2 separate regions of the Homo sapiens genome follow, and region 2 is linked to region 1. The links come from fine-mapping of genetic effects on gene expression. A gene starts in region 1. The other region holds a variant in brackets. All regions are shown on one strand. Distances are from middle to middle.

Region 1 (4,374 bases):
AGCCAGCACAGTGTAGCTCAGTGTCCCCTTCAGCATCACCACATGCCAGGCGACTGTTACCGTACATGTCCCCTCGAGCTATTGCACCTAAAGCTGGACTTTATTCCAAATCTTCCAGCCCTTACTGCCCCGTTCTAAGTTCCTCCAGAACACTGTCTTTGGTCGTTTCTGGCCTGTAAGACCATGCTCCAATACAATTCACAACGCAAAACTCAGAGACAAAGTCCATCTTATTAGAATGGTTTCTCTGTCCCCCAAGCCCACCCAATGCTAGGACCTCCCTCAGCTGCTCAGATCCCAGTTAATCATCCAAACATGGTGGGGGGCTCTGGAGGGGTATCCTGCCACCACGCCAGCGTGGGAATGAATCTTCTCTTCCACGAGGGGTGCCACCTTGACTCAAGTGTTTCAACTCCACTCAGTCGGAAGTCACCGCGGGACTGCCACACAGTGCCTCAGCAGAGGCCACAAAGAAAGGCAGGGAAAAATGCTAAACAATTCAGCTGATACCAGAAGGGCTCTGGAAGAGAGAATGAAGGAGGGGAACACAGTGGTTCACTATAAAACAGAACCGTAAGATCAGTGCATGTGTACAGCAGGGAGAAAGAAATTGTGCTTTGGTGGAAACCTCTGCCTCATCTTGGCCACACTTTCTCACGTGCTCCTTACGGTTCATACAGACGTAGAGTATTTCTGTGCTATTAAGAGTTCGTTACACCATAAATACAATTTTCACGTGTCAACTTAAAAGTAAATTTTAAAAAAGATGAAGGAGGATGATTGGCGGAAAGTGTCTAAAAAGACTCCTCATGGTGGCGATACTGGGGAGAGGTGGGCAGCACTGGTCTCAACTCTCCAGGACACGCTCAGTGACCGGTGATGGCTCCGTACACTGTAGATGCCAGAGACACTTCCCCAGAGTCACTCGAATTCCGTCCTGTCCCCGAGGCTCTGTGGCCGCTCACCCCCCACCAGGCCTCCAACCAAGCTTCAATGAACCCAGTCAATTAGTGCTACTTTGACTTCTTGAACCTAGTTCCAACGTCTGCTTAGTTCTATCACTGAGGGAATTAAACGAATCTGTAACACGTGTTAAGTATGAAAGTCATATTACAAAAATTCTTTTTCTCCCCCAATTTTTTTTTTATCGTGGTAAAATCCACAGAACAGAAACTGGACACACCTGTTAGCGCACAGCCAGTGGGATTAAATGCACTCGGGGCCTTCCCAGTTGGCCAAGGGGCTGGTGTGAGGCAAAGGCACCTCCGATCAGGTCACAGGGAACCCCACGGGAGGCCCAGCGGATGGCCTGGCTCAGGGACCCCACGCCCACGCCCCAATGTCTGCAGGAGTGGCCTGGGCAACTCCTGCCGTGTCTGGGCCCATGGGAAACGGGTGCAAATCTGCGGTCTCCTTCAAACTGTCCAGTGGGCGACTGCGACCTCGCTTCCGAGGTGGAGGGTGGTATAGACGAAGGGAAACGGGGGGCAGCCTGGCCCGCAGACTGGGTCCTGGCCCTCCTTCCGAGCAGGAGGTGGCTTCGGAACCGGCCACCCGCCCGCGGCACCGACGCCTCCCCCGGTTCCCGGGAGGGACCCCTGCGGGGCCGCCAGCTCCAGCGCTTCCGCGGACAGCACGCGCCCTCCCCACCGAGCCTGCGAGGAAGGCGCTCCGCCTTCCACTTTCTCGGGAGCGAGCCCCAGCTCTCGGGACGCAGTCCACACGCGCTAGCCCAGCACGAACCGGCCTCGGGCAGGGCCGCACCCACCCCCGGGACCAGCCCGCGCCCCGCACCCCGCCTCCCGGCGCCCGCCCTGGACAGGTGCCTCCTGCCCTCCCGGGACCCCCGCACCGGGACACCGCGCGCCTCCCGCCCTCCCCGCGGGCGTAGGAGCCTGAGGCGGCGGCCCGGGGACGCGGCCAACCTGGGAGAGAGCGGGGGCGGGGGCCGGCTGGGGAAGGGGCCGCCCGGAGGCGGAGGGGTCGTCGCGGGAGCCTGGAAGCCCGCGGGGCCGGGCCGGGGCGGCGGGGCGGGTCGGAGGCGCTGGCCGGGGCGACGGCCACCCACCTCCTTGTCCGGGACCCACTGCGGCTCCTCCAGGCCGAACGGGCTTCCGAAGGCGCGGTGTTCGGGCACCATGCGCAGGCCGCTCGGGGAGCGCACCAGCTTCTTGGCGTCGCGGCGCGCGGACACCTCGGAGGACATGACGCCGCCTCAGCCTCTCGGCCAGCGGCCCCGCACCCGGCCCCTCGCCCAGCCCGGGGCACCGCCCGCCCCGCCCCGGTCCGCGCGCGGCTGACAGCGCCGGCGTCCAATCGCCAAGCCCGCCACGGAGCGCGGACTAATCGGAGCTTGAACTCCGCCCCATCGCTGCCCTCTCCAATCCGTGTAAGGGCACCGCCCCTGCAACCCTGAGGTCGATCACCAATCGGCGGCGAGGGCTGGCCCGGGTACGCTCCGCCCCTCTCAGGGAGATTGAGACTTTGGATTGGTTAGTTAGTCAGTCACGTTAGCGCCGCTTCGTCTCTGATTGGTGTAGCCCACTCAGGGTGCTAGGCGCCTATTGGAGGAGAAGGCCGAGAGGAGCAGGACGGCGGGAAGAGGAGTGCGGAACCCGCGGGAGGTGAGGCCCGCCGAGCCGGGCTGCGAGCCGGGCTGCGAGCCGGGCGGCAGCGGGGTCGGAGGTCGTGGGCGGCAGCGGGCGTGAGGGGTGAGGCAGGGTCAAGGGGCGGGGGCGGCCGCGGGTCTCCATTGCCCGAGCCTGTGGGAGCAGGCGGGCCTGGGGCTGCAGCACTCACCCCGGGAGCCCCGCCGCAGCTCGGGTAGCGTTCAGGCACCTCGCCGGGGCCGGGCCGCGTGCGTTCGGAGCGGGGAAGGCGGTCTCCGGGGCCCCCGGTGCGCGCGGGGAGGCGTCCGCTCAGGGGAGGCCGAGGTGGGCCCGCGGCTGCGCCCCCGGCCTTCGATGCCTTCGCTCGTCCGCCTGGGACCGCGCTGGCTTCGCATCGAAGTGGGAGAGGTCTGAACAGTTATTTTAATACTTTGATTTGGAAAGAAAATCCTTTAGGCCGGGCGCGGTGGCTCACGCCTGTAATCCGAGCACTTTGGGAGGCCGAGGCGGGCGGATCACGAGGTCAGGAGTTCAAGACCAGCCTGGCCAACATGGTGAAACCCCGTCTCTACTAAAAATACAAAAATTAGCTGGGTGTGGTGGCACGTGCCTGTAATCCCAGCTGCTTGGGAGGCTGAGGCAGGAGAATTGTTTGAACCAGGACCCGGGAGGCGGAGGTTGCAGTGAGCCGAGATCACATTACTGCACTCCAGCCTGGGCTACAGAAAAAGACTCCATCTCAGAAAGCACACAAAAAAAAGAAGAAAATGTTTGTTCATCCTGCCTTTAATTCCTTATTACAAGGCGTGAATTTTTATTGTTTTTTTTGAGACAGTCTGGCTCTGTCATCCGGGGTGGAGTGCAGTGGCGTCTTCACAGCTAGGCACAACCTCGACCTCCCAGGCTCTCAAGTAGCTGGGACCGCAAGCGCCACTACACTGGCCAGCTATTTTTCTTTTTTTTTTTTTTTTTCGGTAGAGAGTAGGTCTTGCTGTGTTGCCCAGGCTGGTCTTGAACTCCTGGGCTCAGGCGACCTTGGCCGCCTTGGCCTCCCACGGTGCTGGGATGACAGGCATCAGCAGTGTTGAAGCCTGTGAGGTGGGGTCCCTGTGGCTGACTCTGCCCTCTCCTGGGGCCATTGGCAGTGCAGGGGTCCTTGTGTGTGGAGGAAATAAGGAGATGATCAAAGTATGATTCCACGAATCACACGGTTTATTGTCAAAGAAGATTTGTTCTCGGGTTCACAGTGCTCAGAGGGGAGGAGAGGGGAGGAGGTGAAGACACCTGGCAGGGAAGCAGGGCCTCCATGGATGGGGTGCATTCACGGCAGGGAGGTGAGTGGCAGAACGGCCAGGGTCCGGTTGCTCTGCTGGGATGGAGCGGGCCCCTGGAGAGTGAGATCTGGTGAGAGTTCGAGGTTTGCCTTGGTAGCAGTGGAGAGCGTGAGAGCGGGAGCTCTCTGAGAAGCTGGGACCGAGGTCCAGCTCCCAGGCCAGCAGCGTATAGCTTGCCTCAAAGCATCTGCACAACCTTCAAGCTGATGTCTGTTTTTGCAGTCCAGCAGTCAGGGTCAGTAACTCACATAAGGGAGTGTCTGACAAGGTTTAAGTGGCATTCCCAAGGTTGCGGAGTTCACTCAAGTCCTCACATATGTGGTCTGATAAGACATCACACTCTTGCAGGGGGGTCAGGTCACCCCAAAACATCAGACTATGTAAGTGCTGTGAATCACTTCAAAGCTACACAGCAGGTCCCAGGGCCCAAG
Region 2 (4,374 bases), 88 kb after region 1:
CGCATCTGGTTACTGAAAATAAGGGGTCGCCAAGGAGGCAAAGCGGAGCCAGCTCTCGGGAGGGACCCGGCCCCCCGCCGCCCGCGAGAATGACAGGCGCGTCCGCTCAGGGCGGTGCCGGGAGAGGCGGGGGTGGAAGGAAGAGGAGGAATCGGACAAAGCCAGCCCCGCCGGGCCTCCGGCCTCCCCGCCCGCCGCGATCCCGGGGTCAGCCACCTCCCCTGTCGCGGGTTCCCGGGGTCCACAGCTGTCCCCGGGAACGGCCGCCGCCGCCCGCAGCAGGGCCAAGCCGGGGATGCGGGGCCAGGGCGGGGCCCTGGGCAGGGCCGGGGACCGGAACCTGCAGTGGGACGCGGATGGGGAGGACGCGCGGCGCCGGGAGCCGGGGCTGGCAAAAGGGCCGGGGACAAGAACCCGACCTGAACCTGGAAGGGGTCGCGGACCGGCCGGGGCGGTGAACTGGGGCGGGTACCGGGGTGGGAACGGAGAGGGGCCGGGACCCAAACCGGGAAGGAGGCCTGGATGGGGACAGAGTTACGGCCGGGGCGGGTCCGAAGAGGAGCGGGACAGGGACGGGGCGGAGGATGAGGAGGGGGCCGCGGTCCGGGGCGCACGCCGGGGACTCACCGCCTTGCTCCTGAGGGCCGCGCTCTCTCGCGCTGTCAGCACCTGGAGCGCCGCCGGGCGCGCGCGCGGAGCAGCGACTGTGCGCCGAGCCCGCCTCGGCTGTGTGAGGCACGGCGCAGCAGTCACCAGCTAGGGGCGCCGGAGCTACCGCCCCGCAGCATCCTCGGCCACCCACGCGCTGTCCCCTTGGCCGCCGAGCACAGCCCCGCGGCTCCTCGCACCAGCAGCCCAGCCGACCCAGCCAGTCCCGCTCGGCCGCCTGCGCCGCTCCCGCCGCCGAAAATGGCGTCTCAGTGTTGCTCCCCCCGGCGCCCCGCCTCGCCCCGCCCCACAATGCCGCGCGCCGGCATGACGTCATCGCCCCTCGCCCCGCCCGGGGCTGGGGAAACTGAGGCTGGGTGGCTCCCCGCAAGCGCTCGGCGAGCTGGGGACTGGAGGGGCGAGAAAGTTGTTTGGGTATCAGGTGGGCGGTCACAGGGAGGAGGGTGACGGTGCAGGACCCAGCGGGCCTCCCGGTTGTAACGCGGACGGGGGTGGGGCGCTCGGGGCAGGGCGCGGCTCGCGGGGTGGGCGGCCAGGCCCTGGCCTCTCCGACTCCGCAGCCGCGATGACCGAGCGCTTCGGCAGCTTCCCTTCCAGCCGGACTGTGGGCCCTACCAGAATGCGGCCGGGGACGGTGCAGGCCCGGCCGCAGCCGCCACCACTGGGCTCCCGCCCCACCCCACTCCCAGGCCCGCGAGCTTCATGCGCTCGTTTCGGTCCCCCCAAAACCCAGCTAGGAGGCCTTCGGGAGGCCCCGGAATCAGATGATCCCGGCCAGGCCTTTCTCCCTCCTCCAGGAAAACCGACAGCCTTTGGTCGAGACCCTGACCTCTAACCCTGCGCCCTCCCCTTCTCATTATTCCCTCTCCTCGGGGCTTTTGGACCCTCGTATCTGTACGAGGAAACTTTCCAGGCGCTCCCCCTCGACACAAACTGCGCCTCAGACGGGCAAAGGGGAAGGGCCGGGGTGTAGACTGTGAGGGTGGGAGACAACCCCCCTCTGTCCCCACGCAGCCACCGGCGCATCTCCCTGGCTGCAGGGCCTCGACCTCCAGCCCGGCCTGAAGGGCAGCGGAGCGCGCCTGGGTCAAGTCCTGCGGCTTCGCCGGCTCCGCAGGCCTGACTCAGCAGCCAGCCGGGAGGGCATGCTGATTCAATGGGCGAGGCTCCGCTCGCTGCTGCCAGCGGCTTGGGAAAAACCCTCCCAGTGCCTGCAGACGTCCCAAGTGCGGGGCCCGGAGGCATCATTTAACCTGGAGGGGTTCCTGGGCCAGTCCCCCAGCCCCATCTTGTGAACTGCTGTTCCTTTCCGATGTTATCACCCAGCACCAGCAGCCCTTTGTGAACCCTGCAGTTAGGCCCCGCAGTCACCAGAGAAGCAAGTGCTCCTCGGTTTTTCCAGGGAGGTCTGGTTACTTTTATCTCATTTATAAAGACAAAGGGGGAGCTCCTAGGTAACACGGTAGGGTTGGCCCGGGGAGAGGCACTGAGTCAGGGTCAAACAAACTTTCTCCATACCACTTTCAGGTTAGTGATTTCAGCCAGACTGCAGCTTGGATGTCACTAAGTTCAGCCACTGGGCTGGGCACCGCCAAGCATCGACTGCTCATTCTTTCTGTGCCGCTGCGCCCAGTAACTGTCCCCTCTGCTCACCCACAACCCTAGCCAGAAACCTGGGATGCCTGCACCGCTCCCTTACGCCCT[A/G]CTACAACAGGTGGAAAAGATTCTACTTCCTCAATATTTCTTTGAGTTAGGGTATCTTTGTCACCCTGACTGGAGGGCAGTGGCAATCAGCTCACCGTAACCTCGAACTCCTGGGCTCAAGAGATCCTCTTGCCTCAGCCTCCCAAGTAGCTAGGGACTACAGGTGTGCACCACCACTCCCAGCTAATGTTTTTTAAATTTTTTGCAGAGAGGAGATCTTGCTATGTTGCCCAGACTGATCTCGAACTCCTGGCCACAAGTGATCCTCCCAGCTGGCCTCCCAAAGTGCTGAGATTACAGGTGTGAGCCACCATGCCCGGCCTCTCAGTATTTCTTGAATCCATCTCCACTGCCACCACTTTGTTCTGGCTTTATTACCTTGTTCTTTTATTTCCTCAATAAATATTTGTTGCTCTCCCATGATCCTCATAACAGCCAAGGATGCATAGGTGAACAAGATAGATAAGATCTCTGCTTTCTAAGAGTTTACATTCCAGTGAGGAGAAGTAGGCCATAAACACATAAGGAAATACCGGATCTTGCCGAGATGATGGAACAGGCAGAGATGGAACAAAGATGATGGAACAGGCAGAGTCTAGGTGGTCAGGGGTGAACTCAGAGGCAGGCGGGTGACCTGAGACCCAAATGAGAGGAGGGAGGCAGGCGTTCAAAGCCCCAGGAGAGGCCGGCGAGGTGGCTCACGCCTGTAATCCCAACACTTCAGGAGGCCGAGGCAGGTGGATTGCCTTCAGGAGTTCAAGACCAACCTGGGCAACACAGTGAAACCACATCTCTGCTAAAATACAACAAATTAGCCAGGCGTGGTGGCGCACGTCTGTAGTCCCAGCTACTCGGGAGGCTGAGGCAGGAGAATCGCTTGAACCTGGGAGGCAGAGGTTGCAGTGAGCCAAGATCACACCACTGCACTCAAGCCTGGGCAACAGAGCCACATTCTGTCTCAAAACAAAATAAATAAAAGCCCCAGGAGAGCTCTGAGGGCAGGAGTCCTCAGGCAGGAATGACCCTGGAGTGTTGGGGGAAAGGAGAAAAGGCCAATTCATCCACCAGTGCTGCCACGCATCACTGTCTGCAGCAACTTCAAATTCCTTGGGTTGGTCAACAAGGCCCCCAGGGCCTGGTGCTGCCAACCTCCTGGTCTCCTGTGCTCTGAACACCCTTATCTGTTCCTGAGTTCACCCTGGTCTCTCACATAGCCATGCCCCTGTACATAGTATTCACTGTGCCTAGAATGTTCTCCCTCCCCCATTCCCCCCAGTGCTCCAGGATTCAAATGATCGTCACTTCCTGGGGGAAGCCGCTTCTGACAGCACCTGCCTGGGTCAAGGCCTCCTCTGACCACCCACCTGTCCCTTCCCCAATGTGTAGTATGTGGTCAGCTTACACAGCTGCCTTCTCCTCAGCCTGTAAGCAGAGAACAGGAGGGGCTGGTGTCCTCTTCCCCACAGCCTGCTCAGCACCTGACGCAGCTGCAAGGGCAACCCTCAAGCAAGCATGAGAGGAGGGCTGGGCTGCTGCTTCTCCAGGCTTCCTTTGCACAGAGATGCTGCTCTTGCTCCCTTTTCAAGGGGAGCAGACTCTTCGGGTCCCTTAAGTCCCTGACTTCTGCCATGATCCTCAGGAGATCCTGCAGTCCTTGGAGCCGTTAGCAGCTCCTAGGTTGGGCTCCTAAGGTACTGCCTGGGGTTAAAAGGCATGGACAACCTGGGCAACATAGTAAGACCCTGACTCTACAAAAAAAATTTTTTTTAATTATCCAGGCATGGTGATGCACCCTTATAGTCTCAGCTACTCAGAAGGCTGAACTGAGGTGGAAGGATCACTTGAGCCCAGGAGGTCAAGGCTGTAGTGAGCTATGACTGTGTCACTGCACTCCAGCCTGAGCAACAGAGTGAGACCCTGTCTCAAAAAAAAAAAAGGAGGGGGGGAACTACCCACCTTCTGCCATTTGCCAGGCCCCTGGGACATCGGAGGCAAGCATAG

What was found. PIP is the estimated chance that this variant, and not a neighbour inherited with it, causes the effect.
Region 2: its variant is fine-mapped to the expression of XRCC3 in whole blood (TOPMed, PIP above 0.99).

What each region holds. Positions count from the first base shown.
Region 1 is chr14:103,713,674-103,718,047 of GRCh38, reverse strand. XRCC3 (X-ray repair cross complementing 3) reads left to right here and starts at 2,597. Exons shown (of 10, transcript NM_005432.4): 1 at 2,597-2,624. It overlaps ZFYVE21 (zinc finger FYVE-type containing 21), which reads right to left and starts at 2,238. Exons shown (of 7, transcript NM_024071.4): 1 at 2,069-2,238. The coding sequence starts at 2,206. RefSeq lists silencers at 1,425-1,504, 1,565-1,634, 1,735-1,814, 2,005-2,574, 2,655-2,914 and an enhancer at 3,111-3,796.
Region 2 is chr14:103,625,748-103,630,121 of GRCh38, reverse strand. KLC1 (kinesin light chain 1) reads right to left here and starts at 911. Exons shown (of 17, transcript NM_001394837.1): 1 at 628-911. It overlaps LOC105370688 (a long non-coding RNA gene), which reads left to right and starts at 979. Exons shown (of 3, transcript XR_944248.2): 1 at 979-1,090; 2 at 2,197-2,383; 3 at 2,582-2,620. RefSeq lists silencers at 164-343, 384-433, 524-643, 694-1,053, 1,144-1,343 and 1 more and an enhancer at 1,784-1,873. The variant A/G (reference allele first, on the strand shown) is at 2,374.